Regions from separate parts of the Homo sapiens genome. Here region 1 is linked to region 2. Evidence: fine-mapped expression QTL. A gene starts in region 2. The other region holds a variant in brackets. All regions are shown on one strand. Distances are from middle to middle. Region 1 holds the start of LOC124903143 (a long non-coding RNA gene). Region 2 holds the start of SLC46A3 (solute carrier family 46 member 3).

Region 1 (9,606 bases), 29 kb before region 2:
ACCCTAAGGATCCTGTGACAGTATAATTTGAAGTCCGGTAACTTTATGCCTCCAGATTTGTTCTGTTTGCTTGATATTGTTTTGGCCATGTGGGCTCTTTTTTGGTTCCATATGAATTTTAGGATTGTTTTTTCTAGTTCTGTGAAAAATGATGATGGTATTTTGATGGGAATTGCATTGAATCTGTAGATTGCTTTGGGCGGTATGGTCATTTTCACAATACTGATTTTTCCCATCCATGAGCATGGGTCATATTTCCATTTGTTTGTGTCATCTGTGATTTCTTTCCGCAGTGTTTTGTGGTTTTCCTTGTAGAGCTCTTTCACCTCCTTGGTTAAGTAGAGTCCTAGGTTGTTTGTTTGTTTGTTTTTTGCAGCTTTTATAAAAGGGATTGAGTTCTTGATTTGATCCTCAGCATGGTCATTGTTGGTGTATATCAGTGCTACTGATTTGTGTATGTTGATTTTGTAACCTGAGACTTTACTGAATTCATTTATCAGACGTAGGAGCCTTTTGGATGAGTCTTTAGGGTTTTCTAGGTATACAGTCATATCATCAGTGAATAGCGACAGTTCGACTTCCTCTTTTCCAAATTGGATGCCCTTTATTTCTTCCTCTTGCCTAATTGCTCTGGCTAGAACTTCTAGAACTATGTTGAGGAGAAATGGTGAAAGTGGGCATCCTTGTCTTGTTCCAGTTCTCAGGAGGAATATTTTCAACTTTTCCCCAATCAGAATGATGTTGGCTAGTTGGCTATGGGTTTCCCATATATGGCTTTTATTACTTTGAGGTAAGTCCCTTCTATGCCTATTTTGTTAAGGGTTTTTATCCTAAAGCGATGCTGGATTTTATCAAATGCTTTTTCTGCATCTATTGAGATGATGATATGATTTTTATTTTTAATTCTGTTTATGTGATGTATCACATTTATTGACTTGTGTATGTTAAACCATCCCTGGAGTGAAACTCACTTGATTATGATGTATTATCTTTTGGATGTGCTGTTGGATTCAGTTAGCTAGTATTTGTTTGAGGATTTTTGCATCTATGTTCATCAGGGATATTGGTTTGTAGATTTCTTTTTTTTTAAATGTCCTTCCCTGCTATTGGTATTAGGGTGATATTGGTGTCATAGAATGATTTACGAAGGATTCCCTCTTTCTCATCATTTGGAATAGTTTCAGTAGGATTGGTACCAATTTGAATGTCTAGTAGAATTCAGCTATGAATCCATCTGGTCGTGTACTTTTTTCATTGGCAATTTTTAAATAAATGATTCCATTTTGCTGCTTGTTATTGGTATGTTCAGGGCTTCTGTTTCTTTCTGATTTGATCTAAGAGGGTTATATGTTTCCAGGAATTTATCCATTTCCTCTAGATTTTCTAGGTTGTGCACATAAAGGTGTTCATAGTAGCCTTGAATGATCATTTGTATTTCAGAGGTCAGTTGTAATATTTCCAGTTTCATTTCTAATTGAGCTTATTTGGACCTCTCTCTTCTTAATCTCACTAATGATCTATCGATTTTGTGTATCTTTTTAAAGAATCAGCTTTTTTGTTTCATTTATCTTTTGTATTTTTTTTGTTTCAATTTCATTTAGTTCCGCCCTGACCTTTGTTATTTCTTTTCTTCTGTTGGCTTTGGGTTTAGTTTGTTCTTGTTTCCCTAGTTCCTTGAGGTGTGACATTAGATTGTCGGTTTGTTCTCTTTCAGACTTTTTGATGTAGGTATTTAATGCTATGAGTTTTCCTCTTAGCACTGCTTTTGCTATATCCCAGAGGTTTTGATAACTTGTGTCACTATTATCATTTATTTCAAAGAATTTTTAAATTTTCAACTTGATTTCATTGTTAACCAAAAAATCATTCAAGAGCAGATTATTTAATTTCCATGTATCTATATAGTTTTGGAGTTGATTTCCAGTTTTATTCCACTCTGATCTGAGAAGATACTTGATACAATTTCAATTTTCTTAAATTTATTGAGACTTGTTTTGTGGCCTGTTATATGGTCTATCTTGGAGGATGTTCCGTGTGCCTATGAGAAGAATGTATACTCTATAGTTGTTGAGAATGTTCTGTAAATAGCTGTTAAGTCCATTTGTTCTAGGGTATAGTTTAAGTCTGTTGTTTCTTTGTTGGCTTTGTCTTGATGATCTCTCTAGTGCTTTCGGTGGAGTATTAAGTCCCCCACTATTATTGTGTTGCTGTCTGTCTCATCTCTTAGGTCTAGTAGGAATTGTTTTATAAATCTGGGAGTTCCAGTGTTAGGTAAATATAAATCCAGGATTGTAGTGTCTTCTTGTTGGACTGATTCTTTTATCATTACATAATGTCCTTATTTGTCTTTTTTTACTGTGGTTGCTTTAAAGTCTGTTTTGTCTTATATAAGAGTAGCTACTCCTGCTCACTTTTGATTGCCATTTGTGTGGAATATCTTTTTCCACACCTTTACCTTGAGTTTATGAGTCCTTATCTGTCAGGTGAGGCTCTAGAAGACATCAAATATTTGGTTGGTGTATTTTTTTAAATTAATTCTCTGATTTTGTATCTTTTTTTTCTAATTCTTTTTTTTGAATTATAAGACTTTAAGTTCTAGGGTACATGTGCACAATGTGCAGGTTTGTTACATAGGTATACATGTGCCATGTTGGTCATTTACATTAGGTATTTACATTTACATTAAGTATCAACTCGTCATTTACATTAGGTATTTCTCCTAATGCTATCCCTCCCCCAGCCCTCCCACCCCCCAGCAGGCCCCAGCATGTAATGTTCCCCTCCCTGTGTCCACGTGTTCTCATTGTTCAACTCTCACTTATGAGTGAGAACATGCAGTGTTTGGTTTTCTGTTCTTGTGTAACTTTGCTGAAAATGATGGTTTCCAGTTTCATCTATGTCCCTGCAAAGAACATGAACTCATCCTTTTTTATGGCTGCATAATATTCCATGGTGTATATGTGCCACATTTTCTTTATCCAGTCTATCACTGATGGGCATTTGGGTTGGTTCCAAGACTTTGCTATTGTGAACAGTGCTGCAGTAAACATACGTGTGCATGTGTCTTTATAGTAGAATGATTTATAATCCTTTGGGTATATACCAAGTAATGGGATTGCTAGGTCAAATGGTATTTCTAGTTCTAGATCCTTGAGGAATCACCACACTATCTTCCACAATGGTTGAACTAATTTACACTCCCAACAGTGTAAAATTGTTCCTATTACTCCACATCCTCCCCAGCACCTGTTGTTTCCTGACTTTTTAATGATCACCATTCTAACTGGCGTGAGATGCTATCTCATTGTGGTATTGATTTGCATTCTCTAATGACCAGTGATAATGAGCATTTTTTCATAAGTTTGCTGGCTGCATAAACATCTTCTTTTAAGAAGTGTCTGTTCATATCCGTTGCCCATTTTTTGATGAGGCTGTTTGTTTTTGTCTTATAAATTTGTTTAAATTCTTTGTAGATTCTGGATATTAGCCCTTTGTCAGATGGATAGATTGTAAAAATTTTCTCCCAATCTGTAGGTTGCCTGTTCACTCTGAAGATAGTTTCTTTTGCTGTGCAGAAGCTCTTTAGTTTAATTAGATCCCATTTGTCTATTTTGGCTTTTGTTGCCATTGCTTTTGGTGTTTAGTCATGAAGTCTTTGCCCATGCCTATGTCCTGAATGGTATTGCTTAGGTTTTCTTCTAGAGTTTTTATGGTTTTAGGTCTTACATTTAAGTCATTAATTCATCTTGAGTTAATTATTGTATAAGGTATAAGGAAGGGATCCAGTTTCAGCTTTCTGCATATGGCTACCCAGTTTTCCCAGCACCATTTATTAAATAGGGAGTCCTTTCCCCATTGCTTGTTTTTGTCAGGTTTGTCAAATATCAGATGGTTGTAGATGTGTGGTGTTATTTCTGTGGCATCTGTTCTGTTCCATTGGTCTATATATCTGTTTTGCTACCAGTACCATGCTGTTTTGGTTGCTGTAGCCTTGTAGTATAGTTTGAAGTCAGGTAGCATGATGCCTCCAGCTTTGTTCTTCTTGCTTAGGATTGTCTTGGCTATGTGGGCTCTTTTTTGGTTCCATTTGAAATTTCAAGTAGTTTTTTCCAGTTCTGTGAAGAAGGTCAGTGGTAGCTTGATGGGGATAGCATTGAATCTATAAATTACTTTGGGCACTATGGCCATTTTCACAATATTGATTCTTCCTATCCGTGAGCATGGAATGTTCTTCCATTTGTTTGTGTCCTCTTTTATTTCGTTGAGCAGTGGTTTGTAGTTCTCCTTGAAGAGATCCTTCACATCCCTTATAAGTTGGATTCCTAGGTATTTTATTTTCTTTGAAGCAGTTGTGAATGGGAGTTCACTCATGATTTGACTCTCTGTCTGTTATTGGTGTATAGGAATGCTTGTGATTTTTGCACATTGATTTTGTATCCCGAGACTTTGCTGAAGTTGCTTATCAGCTTAAGGAGATTCTGGGCTGAGACAATGGGGTTTTCTAAATATACAATCATGTCATCTGCAAACAGAGACAATTTGACTTCCTCTTTTCCTAATTGAATACCCTTTATTTCTTGCTCTTGCCTGATTGCCCTGGCCAGAATTTCCAATACTATGTTGAACAGGAGAGAGAGGGCCTCCTTGTCTTGTGCTGGTTTTCAAAGGGAATGCTTCCAGTTTTTGCCCATTCAGTATGATATTGACTGTGGGTTTGTCATAAATAGCTCTTATTATTTTGAGATACGTTCCATCAATACCTAGTTTATTGAGAGTTTTTAGTATGAAGAGGTGTTGAATTTTGTCGAAGGCCTTTTCTGCATCTATTGAGATAATCATGTGGTTTTGTTGTTGGTTCTGTTCATGTGATGGATTACATTTATTGATTGGTGTATGTTGAACCAGCGTTGCATCCCAGGGATGAAGCCGACTTGATTGTGGTGAATAAGCTTTTTGATGTGCTGCTGGATTTGGTTTGCCAGTATTTTACTGAGGATTTTTGCATTGATGTTTATCAGGGATATTAGCCTAAAATTTTCTTTTTTTGGTGTGTCTCTGCCAGGTTTTGGTATCAGAATGATGCTGGCCTCATAAAATGAGTTAGGGAGGATTCTCTCTTTTTCTATTGATTGGAATAGTTTCAGAAGGAATGATACCAGCTCCTCTTTGTCACTTTGGTAGAGTTCAGCTGTGAATCCATCTGGTCCTGGATTTTTTTTGGTTGGTAAGCTATTAATTATTGCCTCAATTTCAGAACCTGTTATTGGTCTATTCAGAGATTCAACTTCTTCCTGGTTTAGTCTTGGGATGATATATGTGTCCAGAAATTTATCCATTTCTTCTAGATTTTCTAGTTTATTTGCATAGAGGTGTTTATAGTATTCTCTGATGATAGTTTGTTATTTCTGTGGGATCAGTGGTGATATACCCTTTATTATTTTTTATTGTGTCTATTTGATTCTTCTCTCTTTTCTTCTTTATTAGTCTGGCTGGTGGTCTATCTACTTTGTTGATCTT[G/C]TTAAAAAAAAACAGCTTCTGGATTCATTGATTTTTTGAAGGTTTTTTTTGTGTCTCTATCTCCTTCAATTCCGCTCTGATGTTAGTTATTGCTTGTCTTCTGCTAGCTTTTGAGTTTGTTTGCTCTTGCTTCTCTAGTTCTTTTAATTGTGATGTTAGGTTGTCGATTTTAGATCTTTCCTGCTTTCTCTTATGGGCATTTAGTGCTAAAAATTTCTCTCTCCACCCTGCTTTAAATGTGTCTCAGAGATTCTGGTAAGCTGTGTCATTGTTCTCACTGGTTTCAAATAACATCTTTATTTCTGCCTTCATTTCGTTATTTACCCAGTAGTCATTCAGGAGCAGGTTGTTCAGTTTCCGCGTAGTTGTGTGGTTTTGAGTGAGTTTCTTAATCTTGAGTTCTAATTTGATTGCACTCTGGTCTGAGAGACAGTTTGTTGTGATTTCTGTTTTTTCACATTTGCTGAGGAGTGTTTTACTTCCAATTATGTGGTCAATTTTAGAACAAGTGCAATGTGGTGCTGAGAAGAATGTATATTCTGTTAATCTGGAGTAGAGAGTTCTGTAGATGTCTATTAGGTCCACTTGGTCCAGAGCTGAGTTCAAGTCCTGGATATCCTTGGTAATCTTCTGTCTCATCAATCTAATATTGACAGTGGGGTGTTAAAGTCTCCCACTATTATTGTGTAGGAGTCTAAGTCTCTTTGTAGGTCTCTAAGAACTTGCTTTATGAATCTGGGAGCATATATATTTAGAATAGTTAGCTCTTCCTGTTGCGTTGATCACTTTACCATTGTATAATGCCCTTCTTTGTCTCTTTTGCTCTTTGTTGGTTTAAAGTCTGTTTTATCAGAGGCTAGGATTTCAACCCCTGCTTTTTTTTGCTTTCCATTTGCTTGGTAGATCTTCCTCCATCCCTTTATTTTGAGCCTATGTGTGTTTTAGCATGTGAGATGGTCTCCTGAATACAGCACACCAATGGGTCTTGACTCTATCCAATTTGACAGTCTGTGTCTTTTAGTTGGGGCATTTAACCCATTGACATTTAAAGTTAATATTTTTATATGTGAATTTGATCCTATCATTATGATGCTAGCTATTTATTTTGCCTGTTAGTTGATGCAGTTTCTTCATAGCATCGATGGTCTTTACAATTTGGCATGTTTTTGCTGTGGCTGGTACCAGTTGTTCCTTTCCATGTTTAGGACTTCCCTCAGGAGCTCTTGAAATGCAGGCCTGGTTAATGACAAAATCTCTCAGCATTTGCTTTTCTGTAAAGGCTTTTATTTCTCCTTCACTTATGAAGCTTAGTTTGGCTGGATATGAAATTCTGGGTTGAAAATTCCTTTCCCTAAGAATGTTGAATATTGGCCCCCACTCTCTGGCTTGGAGGGTATCTTCCAAGAGATCCACTGTTAGTCTGATGGGCTTCACTTTGCGGGAAACCCAGCCTTTGTTTCTGGCTGCCCTTAACATTTTTTCCTTCATTTCAACCTTGGTGAATCTGATCATTTTGTGTATTGGGGTTGCTATTCTTGAGGAATATCTTTGTTGTGTTCTCTGTATTTCCTGAATTTGAATGTTGGCCTGCCTTGCTAGGTTGGGGAAGTTCTCCTGGATAATATCCTGAAGAGTGTTTTCCAGCTTGGTTCCATTCTCCCTGTCACTTTCAGGTACAGCCATCAAACGTAGATTTGATCTTTTCACATAGTCCCATATTTCTCGGAGCCTTTGTTTCTTTTCACTCCTTTTTCTCTAATCTTGTCTTCTCGCTTTATTTCATTAAGTTGATCTTCAATCACTGGTATCCTTTCTTCTGCATGATTGATTCGGCTACTGAAGCTTGTGTATGCTTTACAAAGTTCTCATGCTGTGTTTTTGAGCTCCATCAGGTCATTTATGTTCTCTACATTGGTTATGTAGCAATTCATCTAACCTTTTTTCAAGGTTCTTAGCTTCCTTGTGTTGGGTTAGAACATGCTCCTTTAGCTTGGAGGAGTTTGTAATTACCCACCTTCTGAAGCCTACTTCTGTCAATTCGTCAAACTTATTCTCCGTCCAGTTTTTTTCTCTTGCTGGCGAGAAGTTATGATTCTTTGGAGGAGAAGAGGTGTTCTGGTTTTTGGAATGTTCAGTCTTTCTGCACTGGTTTCTCCCCATCTTTGTGGTTTTATCTACCTTTGGTCTTTGATGTTGGTGACCTACAGATGGGGTTTTGGTGTGGATGTCCTTTTTGTTGATGTTGATGCTATTCTTTTCATCTGTTAGTTTCCCTTCTAACAGGTCCCTCAGCTGCAGGTCTGTTGGAGTTTGCTGGAGGTCCACTCCAGACCCTGTTTGCCGGGATATCACCAGTGGAGTCTGCAGAACAGCAAATACTGCTGCCTTATCCTTCCTCTGGAAGCTTTGTCCCAGAGGGGCACCTGCCAGATGCCAGCCAGAGCTCTCCTCTATGAGGTGTCTGTTGGACCTTACTGGGAGGTGTCTCCCAGTCAGGCTACACGGGGGTCATGGACCCACTTGAGGTGGCAGTCTGTCTGTTATCAGAGCTCAAACACTGTGCTGGGAGAACCACTGCTCTCTTCAGAGCTGTCAGGCAGGGATGTTTAAGTCTGCTGAAGCTGTGCCCACAGCTGCCCCTTCCCCCAGGTGCTCTGTCCCAGGGAGATGGGGGTTTTATCTATAGGTCCCTGACTGGGGCTGCTGTCTTTTGTTCAGAGATGCCCTGCCCACAGAGGTGGAATCTAGAGAGGCAGTTGGCCTTGCTGAGCTGCGGTGGGCTCCTCCCAGTTCGAAATTCCTGGCGGCTTTGTTTACACTGTGAGCATAATACTGCTTGCTCAAGCCTCAGCAATGGTGGACACCCCACCCCCCAGCCAAGCTCCAGCGTCTCAGGTCGATCTCAGACTTCTGTGCTAGCAGCGAGAATTTCAAGCCAATGGATCTTAGCTTGCTGGGCTCTGTGGGTGTGGGACCCACACAGCCAGGCACTGGAAGGAATCTCCTGGTCTGCCGTTTGCAAAGAATGTGGGAAAAGTACAGTATCTGGGCAGGAGTGCACTGTTCCTCCCCGTACAGTCTCTCACAGCTTACCTTGGCTAGGAAAAGGAAATCCCCCGACCCCTTGCACTTCCCAGGTAAGGCGACACCCCACCCTGCTTTGGCTCACCCTCCGTGGGCTGTTCCCACTGTCCAACCAGTCCCAGTGAGATGAACCAGGTATCTCACTTGGAAATGCAGAAATCACCTATCTTCTCTGTTGATCCCACTGGGAGCTGCAGACTGGAGCTGTTCCTATTCAGCCATCTGGCTGGAAATCCCACTGTGTATCTTTTAAGTGGAGCATTTAGGCCATTTACATTCAATGTTAATATTGGGATGTGAGGTACTATTCTATTTATCATATTAGTTGTTACATAGATACTTTGTTTTTTTCACTGTGTTACTGCTTTATAGACCCTGTGATGCTTTCAGCAGGTTCCATTTTGGTACATACCAAGTTTTGTTTCAAGATTTAGAACTCCTTTAGCATTCCTTGTAGTGCTGATTTGGTAGTGGCAAATTCCCTCAGCATTTGCTTGTCAGGAAAAGACTATTTCTCCTTCATTTATGAAGCTTAGTTTTGCTGGATACAGAAATTAAAAAAAAGAAATTCAGGTGTGTGATGGAATAGACTTTTTTTTTTTGACTCAACACCACTTAATGAAGGAATAGATTTTGAATGTGCTTTTAGAATATTGTATAATGTCCTTATGTAAGATAATTCTAGACTCAAATATTTCAAGGAGCTGGATGTGGCTTAATACTTTGTAAAATTGGATTCACCACAGGCACACACTAAGTGAAATGGAGATGCCAGAAGTCCTTGACATAGAGTAGAGCATCAGTTCTCAAGCTTTTGTGTGCACCAGAATCATAGGAGGGCTTTTAAAAACACAGATTGCTGAACCCCACTCCTAGAGTTTGTGATTCAGAAAGGTTGAGTTGAAGCCTGAGAATTTGCATTTCTAACAAGTTTGTAGGTTATGGTAATGCTACTAAACTAAGGACCATATTTTGAAAGTCACTAGTATAGAAGAAAGAAATCAA
Region 2 (9,606 bases):
GCTTGGCCAACATGGTAAAACTCTGTCTCTACCAAAAAATACAAAAAAAAAAAAAAAAAACCTTTATTTAGGGAGAGCTTGGCTGTTGCCCTTATTTTTTTTTTTTACCTATGTCTTCACAGATAGATTAGTGAGAAACATCTTCCTTTATTTACTAAATAAAAGAATTTAAAATAAGATAAAATTGAAAGAGGAGACTTACACTGTCTACAGATGGTAGCATACCGTGGCTGAGTGTGGTGGCTTACGCTTATAATCCCAGCACTGTGGGAGGCCGAGGTGGGAGCATCACTTGTGCCCAGGAATTTGAGACCAGCCTGGGCAACATAGCGAGACCCTGTCTCTAAAAATAAATTTAAAAAAACTAGGCCAGGCACGGTGGCTCACGCCTGTAATCCTAGCACTTTGGGGGGCCAAGGTGGGCGGATCACTTGAGGTCAGGAGTTTGAGACCAGCCTGGCCAACATGGCAAAACCCTGTCTCTACTAAAAATACAAAAATTAGCCAGGCGTGGTGGCGTACGCCTGTAGTCTCCGCTACTTGGGAGGCTGAGGCAGAAGAATTGCTTGAACCTGGGAGGCAGAGGTTGCAATGAGCTGAGATTGTGCCATTGCACTCCAGCCTGGGTGACACAGTGAGACTCCATCTCAAATAAATAAAAATAAAAAGTAAATAAAGGTGGTAGTATGTCATGACCTGAGGAGTAAGATAAACTCAACTTCCAAGGACCAAAATGACAATGACAGATGACATACACACACAGATTGGAAGATGTGTCAATCATTACACTAGTTACTTGATGGAAGAAATTTTGCATGATCTTAAAACATTTTTTGCTTGCCATTGCTCTGTATTTTCCAAAGTCAATATAAAAAGTGTGTGCCATTTGTATACTGGGAAATGCTAAGCTGATTTAAAAAACAGATGTAAACCGTTTTTAGTCATTGAATGAATCACTGAAGGCGATGGTGGTGCCTCCTGGGAAACAAAAATGTTCCTTTGTCCTAAGGAGCAAACAGAGAGTAGGCCACCACTCCAGCGTGGGTGGCAGGTGAGGGTAGGGGTGGTTTCTGGTTCCCAGAGGTCTAAGAGCACCAACTTTAAGGGAAGGGATCTAGAGTAGTAGGTTCTCTTGAATATTAATCCAATTAAGAAACAATAAATGAAAAAGTCAATTTGAAAATTCGGCAAAAATCTTTGACATGAGACCACTGCTGTGGGCAGTAGGGGGCTCTCAGCAGCTGGGCCAGGCTGGAGGTGGGCCAACACTTGCCCCCTGTATGGTTGCAGAAGCCACCAAGCTGGCTGGACCAAGGCCCGTCTTCCCTCAGTCCAAGAGGGCAAGAGCAGCAGACTTTCCCAGACATTCTTGTCCTCTCCTCCCTGGTCCCTCCCACTGCAACCAGGGGGCCTGCTCCTACAGGTCAGCCAAAAGAAAGCACAGAATCAAATACAGAAATTGATGAGCCTGTAAGAAGAAATTTGTTAAAGGATACAAAATTACAGCTAGACAGGAGGAATAAGTTCTGGTGTTCTGTAGCACCACAGGGTGACTACAGTTAACAGTAATATGTTATATAGTTTCAAATAGCAAGAAGGAGGGTATTGAATGTTCCCAACACAAAGAAATGAGAGATGTCTGAGTTGATGGATATGCTAATTAGCCTGATCTGATCACTATACATTGTATGTATCAAAACACCACTGTATACTCCATGAATATGTACAATGATTATCTGTCAATTAAAAAAATAAAATAAGACCGGGCACGGTGGCTCACGCCTGTAATCCCAACACTTTGAGAGGACCAGACAGGAGGCTCACTTGAGGCCACGAGTTCAAGGCCAGCCTGGGAAACAGAGGAAGACCCTGTCTCTACAAAAAAAAAAAAAAAAAATCAAAAATTAGCTGAGTGTAGTGGCACGTGCCTGTAGTCCCAGCTACTCAGGAGGCTGAGGTGAGAGGATCCCTTGAGCCTAGGAGTTCAAAGTTGCAGCGAGCTATTACCACGCCACTCCACTCCAGCGTGGGCAGCAGAATGAGACCCTGTCTCAAAAAGTACCATACATGCATAAATACATAATAAACAAAATAAAATAAAAAACACTTCAGGTGATTCCCATGTCCAGTCAAGGTTAAAAAACACTGTGTTAGAGGTTCCAGGATGGGATTCAAGTATGTATATTAACAAACGTCTCCAGAGCCGAAATCTGAAGAGCATCCCTGCTGTAGGACCCCAACTTTGAAACTAAGAGGATTTGTTAAACTCTATTCTGTTTATGTGTGTTTTTCTCAACCTAGAGAGACTCTGGGCTTCTCGGGTTCAGAGCCGTTTTGCTTATCCTTGTCACCACAGGATAATGTGTGATAAACATTTGTTTAATGCATGAATAAACACTTACAAAAAGAAACTGTGAGCCGATCGAAGCTTCTCACTCCCGGGAATGACCTAGGAGACATTCTTGAAGGGAGATAAGACCGCTGGGTGAGACTCAGGGCCCTTTTTTTTTATGACCTTACTCTACGCCAGAACCTTGATGTCTTCCAGGCTGCTCAGAAATAATCACTCCCAAGAAAACGTTTCCCATGGGAATGAGGAAATGAGTAAGATTAGGGATTGTGCCAAATTGCCTAACCTCACCCCAGCAAGGTTCCACCTGACACCTCGGGAAGTGCTAGAACCTTGCCTCTGGGGCGGTTTGCCATTTCCTCCTTCTCAGGCTCTTCTCCCAGTCACAGAGACTCACAGAGCCAGCAGGAGGTGACTCAATTCCTTTTAATTCATTTCATCTTTCACTGGGAAGGCAGCACCACTCCTTTACAATCACAAAATATCCCCCAGAAGAAGAGTTTAGAGTTTACAGGTGTGATTTGTTTTTGAGGCATTGTAGGAAAAAAAAAAAAATTTCCAAACCTGGATACTATCTCTTTGCATTTTGAAATGGTAGACTTTTGTCAAAAACTGCCCAAGGGACCAGGAGAATGGTGAAGTGCCTGCCTCCTGTTTTACACACAAAAAAACTGGGGAGATTGCTGGAGAGGGAGGAAGAAAGCCTCCTTAATATCTGGCTAAACATCTTTGGTGTCAACGGTGGGTACTCCCCACTCCAGATGTCCCCACACAGCTGCTCCTCAACACGTGAGAGCCAAGGCTGATTTGATACCACCACCAAATAATAAATGCTCCTCCACCCCACCCTGTGACAGACACTGGCTCACAATCTTCAGTGATGGGCCACTTTCTAGAGTCCCTGAAAGCTGGGACATGCAGAAACAGTAAAAGGATTGGGGAAGAATAGAGCAAGTGAGAGACAGAAACACCATGTTTCAGCCACCCCTGTCCACCAAGTAGCTCATTCCAGCCTGCCCTGCCCCAATTTTCAGACTTTTTTTTTTTTTTTTTTTTTTTTTAGGACAAAGCAAGGAGACAGCCACAGAAGAGATGACACTGTGGTGAAATTTTCCGAGAGAAAGGAGAAGAGCTAGTGTCACAGAGCAGGAGGGTGTTTTAAGAAGAAGAGGCAGATTTGAAAGGTGTCAGGAAACTTCAAATGAGGTGAGTTCCCAGTAAAGGCCATTAGGTTTGGGATTTAGGACTTTGATGGCCGCCCTAGAGAGACCAATGGATGATGAGTTCACGGTCCTCTTTAACTCAAAGCCCGGTATACATTCCCATTTTATTAAATACTATGGATATTGTAATTTCTTACCTCCTGGAATGCAAAAATTGGGCTGCTTTTGTTTTTTTCACACTCAGAAATATTGCTATCAGATGAAAAAGTGTAGTTGCCAGTTTCTTCCCATATTCTCCGATAAACATATTGCGTTGTCAGTGGACCGGTCAAAGTCATAGCAAATGCACTAAGGAAAATGGCAGGTTCTACAAATAAAATCTTCATATTGCCTGGGTAGGTAGCTGTATTCTATAAAAAGTGAAAACGGAGAAAGATCATCTGTCTCATCCCAGAGGCTAGATATTCAAAGATGGGTAAGTTTGAGCAATTTTGTGGAGTAAATGTTTAAACAAGCAAACTAGAGAACAGAAAAGGCAGTAAGCACTTTCTCAGAGAATAACTTTTACTTTGGAGTAGAGTACTCTGTAACAACCTGAGGCTGCCATGCTTTCCATTTTTATGAGTAGGACATTGTAGGACTCAAGCCGCCTTTGAGTCTTTGAAATCATAAACTGTCACCCATCTTGGTTAGCCAATGATCACAGTACAGTTCCCACACTGTATATTGCCAACTGATTTTTCGTAAGTTCAACAATGAGGTTCCTTTTGGGAAGCGACAGTTGCACAATTGTTATTGTTATTTTGCTGCGTATTAAAAACGGACAGGGAGGGGGCGTTTTAAAAAGCAGCTCCCAATCGAAAGGGCCTTATTTTTAACTCACCCCACGATTACAGTCTTCCTGCCAGGCTGGGTACAGGTCGGGCCGTGCCAGGGGCTGTCGCCTCGGATGCCCTGCGCTCGTGCGCGCCCGGGTTCAAGGGCAGCCTCTGGACTGGGGCAACAGAGGACGCGCCGGGGACAGTAACCTCGGACTACGCGGCCGGCGCTGGGGTGGGGAGAGTACTTTCCCGTCGAACTCGACCAAATTACGCTTGTCGGGGAGTCTCAAGCGTATTGTAAAGCAAACCTCGGCAAGCGCACTTCCGCGTCCCGAGTGACACCTGCAGGGTTCTCCGGCAGCCCTCGGCTTCCCCGCGGCCCTGCGGACCTCGGCCTCAGCGCGGCGCGGCGGGGCGCGGAGCAGCTGCTCCTTCTGCGCAGTGGACAATCGGCCAATCGGCGCCTCCGTCGGTCGGTCAGCGGCCCTGCCAGCGCTAGGCGATGACTCGGCCGCAGCCAGCTGAGCATCGCTGTCCGCCGAGGAGGCGGGGTCGGCTGCCGCGGCGCTGTCACTGTTCTACCCGGCTCTCCTGCGATTGGGCCCAGCGGTCGGTGCCCCAGCGGCGATTGGTCCACCCGGACGTCACTCTCCCCTGGAGAGTGGCTAGTGGATCGTGCACCCACCCTCGGAGGCCCGGAGTGGATCCCGCGCGACCGAGCAGCCACTCAGCACCGCTGTTGAGTGGTGGGCCGCGCCGCAGGCTCAACAGCTCTGGAGTTGCAAAGCATTTCTGAATCCGAATATCCTTTCTCATAGAAACACATAAAACAACAGTTGGAAAAGTAACATGTTTGGGCTGTAGCCCCCAGCAGGATCCCGGTCGGCCCGCAGAAGAGGGGAATGGGCGCAGGTGGAGGGCATAGGAAAGAGAGTGCTCAATGCAGAGTTAGCGGAGGGTTGGAATGTGGTCGCTGGCTTTTCCTGGGGAGGGGAGGGGGGACTTGGGCAAATCGTTAAATTTTCATGAACCTCCATGTCTTTATCTGCCACGTGGGGATGATAAGTCTTACAGGGTTGTCTAATTAAACACTCAGCATGTATACACAACACAGCCCCTGGACATAGGAGGAGTTGTCAGTGCTCTCCAACACACCCACCAGGAACAACTTGTAGTAAAAGAATTGAGCTACTACTTCTTGAAGCCAGGAGAAATGCATGCATGAGGAACCGTGGGGGCATCTCAGTAAGAAGGTGTTAGAATTTACTATGGGCTTGCGTTATGTGATTTTGGGAAGAGTTCAAGAAAGCAAGGCCTTACTCTGGATTGGTTGCTGTCAGGAAATGGCAGTAATTCTATGATTGGGTATCTTAATAAGTCTTATTTAGGAGTCAAGACTAGACAGAGGCTAAAGCCATGAATGATAAAGAAGCAACAGTCACACATATTTGTCATTTTTGTGGTTTAGACAGTGCCTAAATTTTGTCCGTGTTCAGACAAAATTATGACGTGGTCTTGTTTTTGTCTTGATCATGGTTACAGAATGCTCTTGTCTGACTTTGGTGTTCCGTGAAATTGTTTTCATTCGACAGAACACCATGGTCCAGAAAAGTTCTTAGCAACACCAAGGCCCAGCTGATAGTTCCAGCACCTGGATGTCAGAGCTGCTTTCTCTTCCTCAGCACTCCTTAAATGACAGTTGTGTCACTGAATGCAGAGTTAAACGTCTTAGGTTTGAGTCCTAACTGATACTTAGTAGCTGGTAACCTTGGACTTGCCACTTAATCTTACTTCCCAGCTTCTTCAAATCAGCATTTATGAAGCACTTGTTATGAGTTTCAAACAATGGAGCATGGATATTGGAAAGAAGATAAACAAACATGAGTAAGATACAGTTTGCAAGGAAGACATAATATTTTAAGTTGCAGTACTTTGTACTAAGTACTATATTATTCTAAACGGCACTTAGAAGATGTCCTTTTTTTTTTTTTTTTTTTTTGAGGTGGAGTCTCGCTCTGTCACCCAGGCCGGAGTGCAGTTGCAGGATCTTGGCTCACTGCAACCTCCGCCTCCCGGATTCAAGCAATGATCCTGCCTCAGCCTCCTGAGTAGCTGGGGTTACAAGTGTGCGCCACCATGGCCGGCTAATTTTTGTATTTTTAGTAGAGACAGGGTTTCACCATGTTGACCAGGATGATCTTGAACTCCTGACCTCAGGGGACCTGCCCACCTCAGCCTCCCAAAGTGCTGGGATTACAGGCATGCGCCACCGTGCCCTGCTGAAAATGTCCTTTCTTATGGGGCAAAAATAATTAATGTCCAATATACTTCCACGCTTTGCATTCCTACTCTTCCACACGAAGAAGAAAGCCAGGTCTTCTTAATGAGTTCTGCTGCTGATCGCTATGGTGACAACAGTCATTTTTTTTTTGTATTTTTTCAAAGAGAATTTTAATGTGAAAAATTAGCAGAGTTTCTGCCTTCACAATTAGAGTTTAACATGAGTCTTCCAGTGTTTTAAAAAGAACTGTAATATACGTAAAGCAAAATATTTTGGCATCATCTAGTGAAAACAGACAATGTGGTATTTTTTCAGCCATCTCATATAGTTAGGCCCTGAGTTATAATTTGAGATAAGTGATTCCTAAACAGAATGTGCTTTACAGAATGTGACCAATTATATTACTCCCAAGGACCTTGTTTCAGATTATATTAAAACCAGAGTTCACTGATCTCACATTTTAAAAAGAAAAAAAGTTTGTTAACTGTTTTAATCAACATAAGTAGTAACAAACATCCCTAATTGGATTCTAGAGAGGAAGCAGGGAGGGCCAGGCATGTGGCTCATGCCTGTAATCCCAGCACTTTGGGAGGCCGAGGCGGGTGGATCACGAGGTCAGGAGTTCAAGACCAGCCTAGCCAAAAGAGTGAAACCCTGTCTCTACTAAAAATACAAAAATTAGCCAGGCGTGGTGGCAGGTGCCTGTAATCCCAACTACTCAGGAGGCTGATGTAGACAATTGCTTAAACCCGGGAGGCGGAGGATGCAGTGAGCTGAGATCGCGCCACTGCACTCCAGCCTGGGCGACAGAGCGAGACTCCATCTCAAAAAAAAAAAAAAAAAAAAAGAGAGAGAGAGGAAGCAGGGAACAACTGAGCCAAAACAAAATTATCCCCTAAGGACTTGACTTTGGACTTCCACATAAATGTGACCTTGAAGACCTAGATACATATTTATCAGGTAAATATGTAATTATTTCGTAATTAGATCAAGATACATGAGCAGTTTTTGGCATTAATAATTACATTATTTTTAGGAAATCTTATCAAATATGGTCCCGGATCTCTTAATTTCCTATATTCAGTGATTTTAGTTAAAATTCCAAAGGATATTTTTTTTCTACAACATCTCCATTTCTGAGTATCATCATACCAAAAGAATTAGTATTCTCTCATTCAAGGCTTTAGATGTTCAATTATTCCCTGCCCTTCCATCCTCACCCACACAATAATTGCCCAGATAAATAATAACCTGAGGTTTCCAAGTATCTCACCGGGATTTTTATTCTTTATACCTTGCAGGACTAGTCCAAGATTTGAATACCCTGAACTTATTTGGCAAGAGCTAAGAGTACTCTTAAAATTACTACCTGGAAATTATATTATTTAGAATCTGCCAATTACCTAGATCCTCCTGAACAATTGTTTTACTAATGAACTTCCTGAAAGCACATGTATAAGTATCATAGCTATTAGAAAATGTTTCAAATGCTATTATATTTGATAGAACCATTCAGTTAACAAAATACTAAATCATAAACTGGCTTTTAGAATTACACACTCAAAAAAAACAGTACACTACAAGAGTTGTTTTGTACACTTCATTCTCTTCGAATGCCTTTGTGGCTTACAGTGATGATCACATATATTGGTTCCTTGCAACCTTTTTCATTTTGATCTTCGTTTGTAATGGATAAGTGGGTTTTCAGGGGTGTGAATCATAGTTGTATAATTCACGATGGGAAAATATCCATCAATGAGATCAAATTCATATAAACGAAGCATAGTGGACCAAATTGTCTTAATTTGAACATAGGCAAAATTTTCCCCAATTCAACGATGACACCCAGCTCCAAATGGCACATAGGCAAACTTTTCCCCTGATGCTGGGTTATCCTGTAAGTAGCAATCAGGATTAAAGTCCAGGCGTTCTACCCATGAGTCTTTAGGTCTTTGATTGACAGTGGGAGAAACACACACCTGATGTCCTGGAGGAATGGTATACCCTACCACAGTCTGAGGAGTTCTGGCCATTCTCATCATGATCATTATAGGAGGTCTAAGTCTTAATGTTTCTTTTATACAGCGATCAAGTAAATTTAGATCCTTGAGTTGGTCATAAGTTAAAGGAGGCAGATTCTCTCCACAGACTGTTTTCTGTTCTAAATAACATTTTTCTTGAAGTGTTTTGTCTCTGGCCAAAAAGAAGTCCATCCAAGCACTAGTAGTTGAGGATGAATGCTGCCCTGCCAAGAGTAATCCAATAAGCATCCCTGCTACTTCATCATCAGTCAAAGGACGCCCATCCTTGTATGTAGCATCTAGTAAAGTTTGGAGAATGTCATCAATTTTTTCTTGAGACTGTCTGCGTTTCTGGATTGCCTTATAGAAAATATCCTTGATTTCCCAATGAGCTCTGTCCCTGCATCTGAAACTAGGCAAAGGCAGCCAACCTGGTAAGAGCCAGGCTGCATGGCTGAAACCTCCATCCAAATCTGCATACAGCTGTGCTACCTTTTCATTGAGTTGACTTCTGATTTCCTTTCCATGCAAACAGTGGCTAGCTGTTAAAATTATGAGCTCAGAAAGAGCTTCAAACACATTTTTTTCTCCACTTTCTCCCCAACTCTGAAAGTACTCCTTTGTTTCTTTTTCTTTTTTTTTTTTATTATACTTTAAGTTTTAGGGTACATGTGCACATTGTGCAGGTTAGTTACATATGTATACATGTGCCATGCTGGTGCGCTGCACCCACTAACTTGTCATCTAGCATTAGGTATATCTCCCAATGAAACATGCTGTTTAAAGTGGGCTTTGTTAAGGCCACTTTTTAACATTTTCTTCTGCTCCAAGAAAACTGGATTAGGCACATCGTATGCAACTCCCTTCCCAAACACAGGTGTCGTCAGGTGACTGTAGACATCTTCTGCATTCAGGTCTTCATTTTTACTATTAAAAAGCAGCGCAGCAGCATCACTCCCCAGAAGGTAAG

Evidence for each region. PIP is the estimated chance that this variant, and not a neighbour inherited with it, causes the effect. A credible set is the group of variants that fine-mapping cannot tell apart.
Region 1: its variant is the best candidate, but not a certain one, in a credible set for the expression of SLC46A3 in whole blood (INTERVAL, PIP 0.57).

What each region holds. Positions count from the first base shown.
Region 1 is chr13:28,685,511-28,695,116 of GRCh38, forward strand. It overlaps LOC124903143 (a long non-coding RNA gene), which reads left to right and starts at 8,246. Exons shown (of 3, transcript XR_007063738.1): 1 at 8,246-8,654. RefSeq lists an enhancer at 7,965-8,497. The variant G/C (reference allele first, on the strand shown) is at 5,518.
Region 2 is chr13:28,714,100-28,723,705 of GRCh38, forward strand. It overlaps SLC46A3 (solute carrier family 46 member 3), which reads right to left and starts at 4,871. Exons shown (of 6, transcript NM_181785.4): 1 at 4,397-4,871; 2 at 3,711-3,923. The coding sequence starts at 3,899. It also overlaps the pseudogene CYP51A1P2.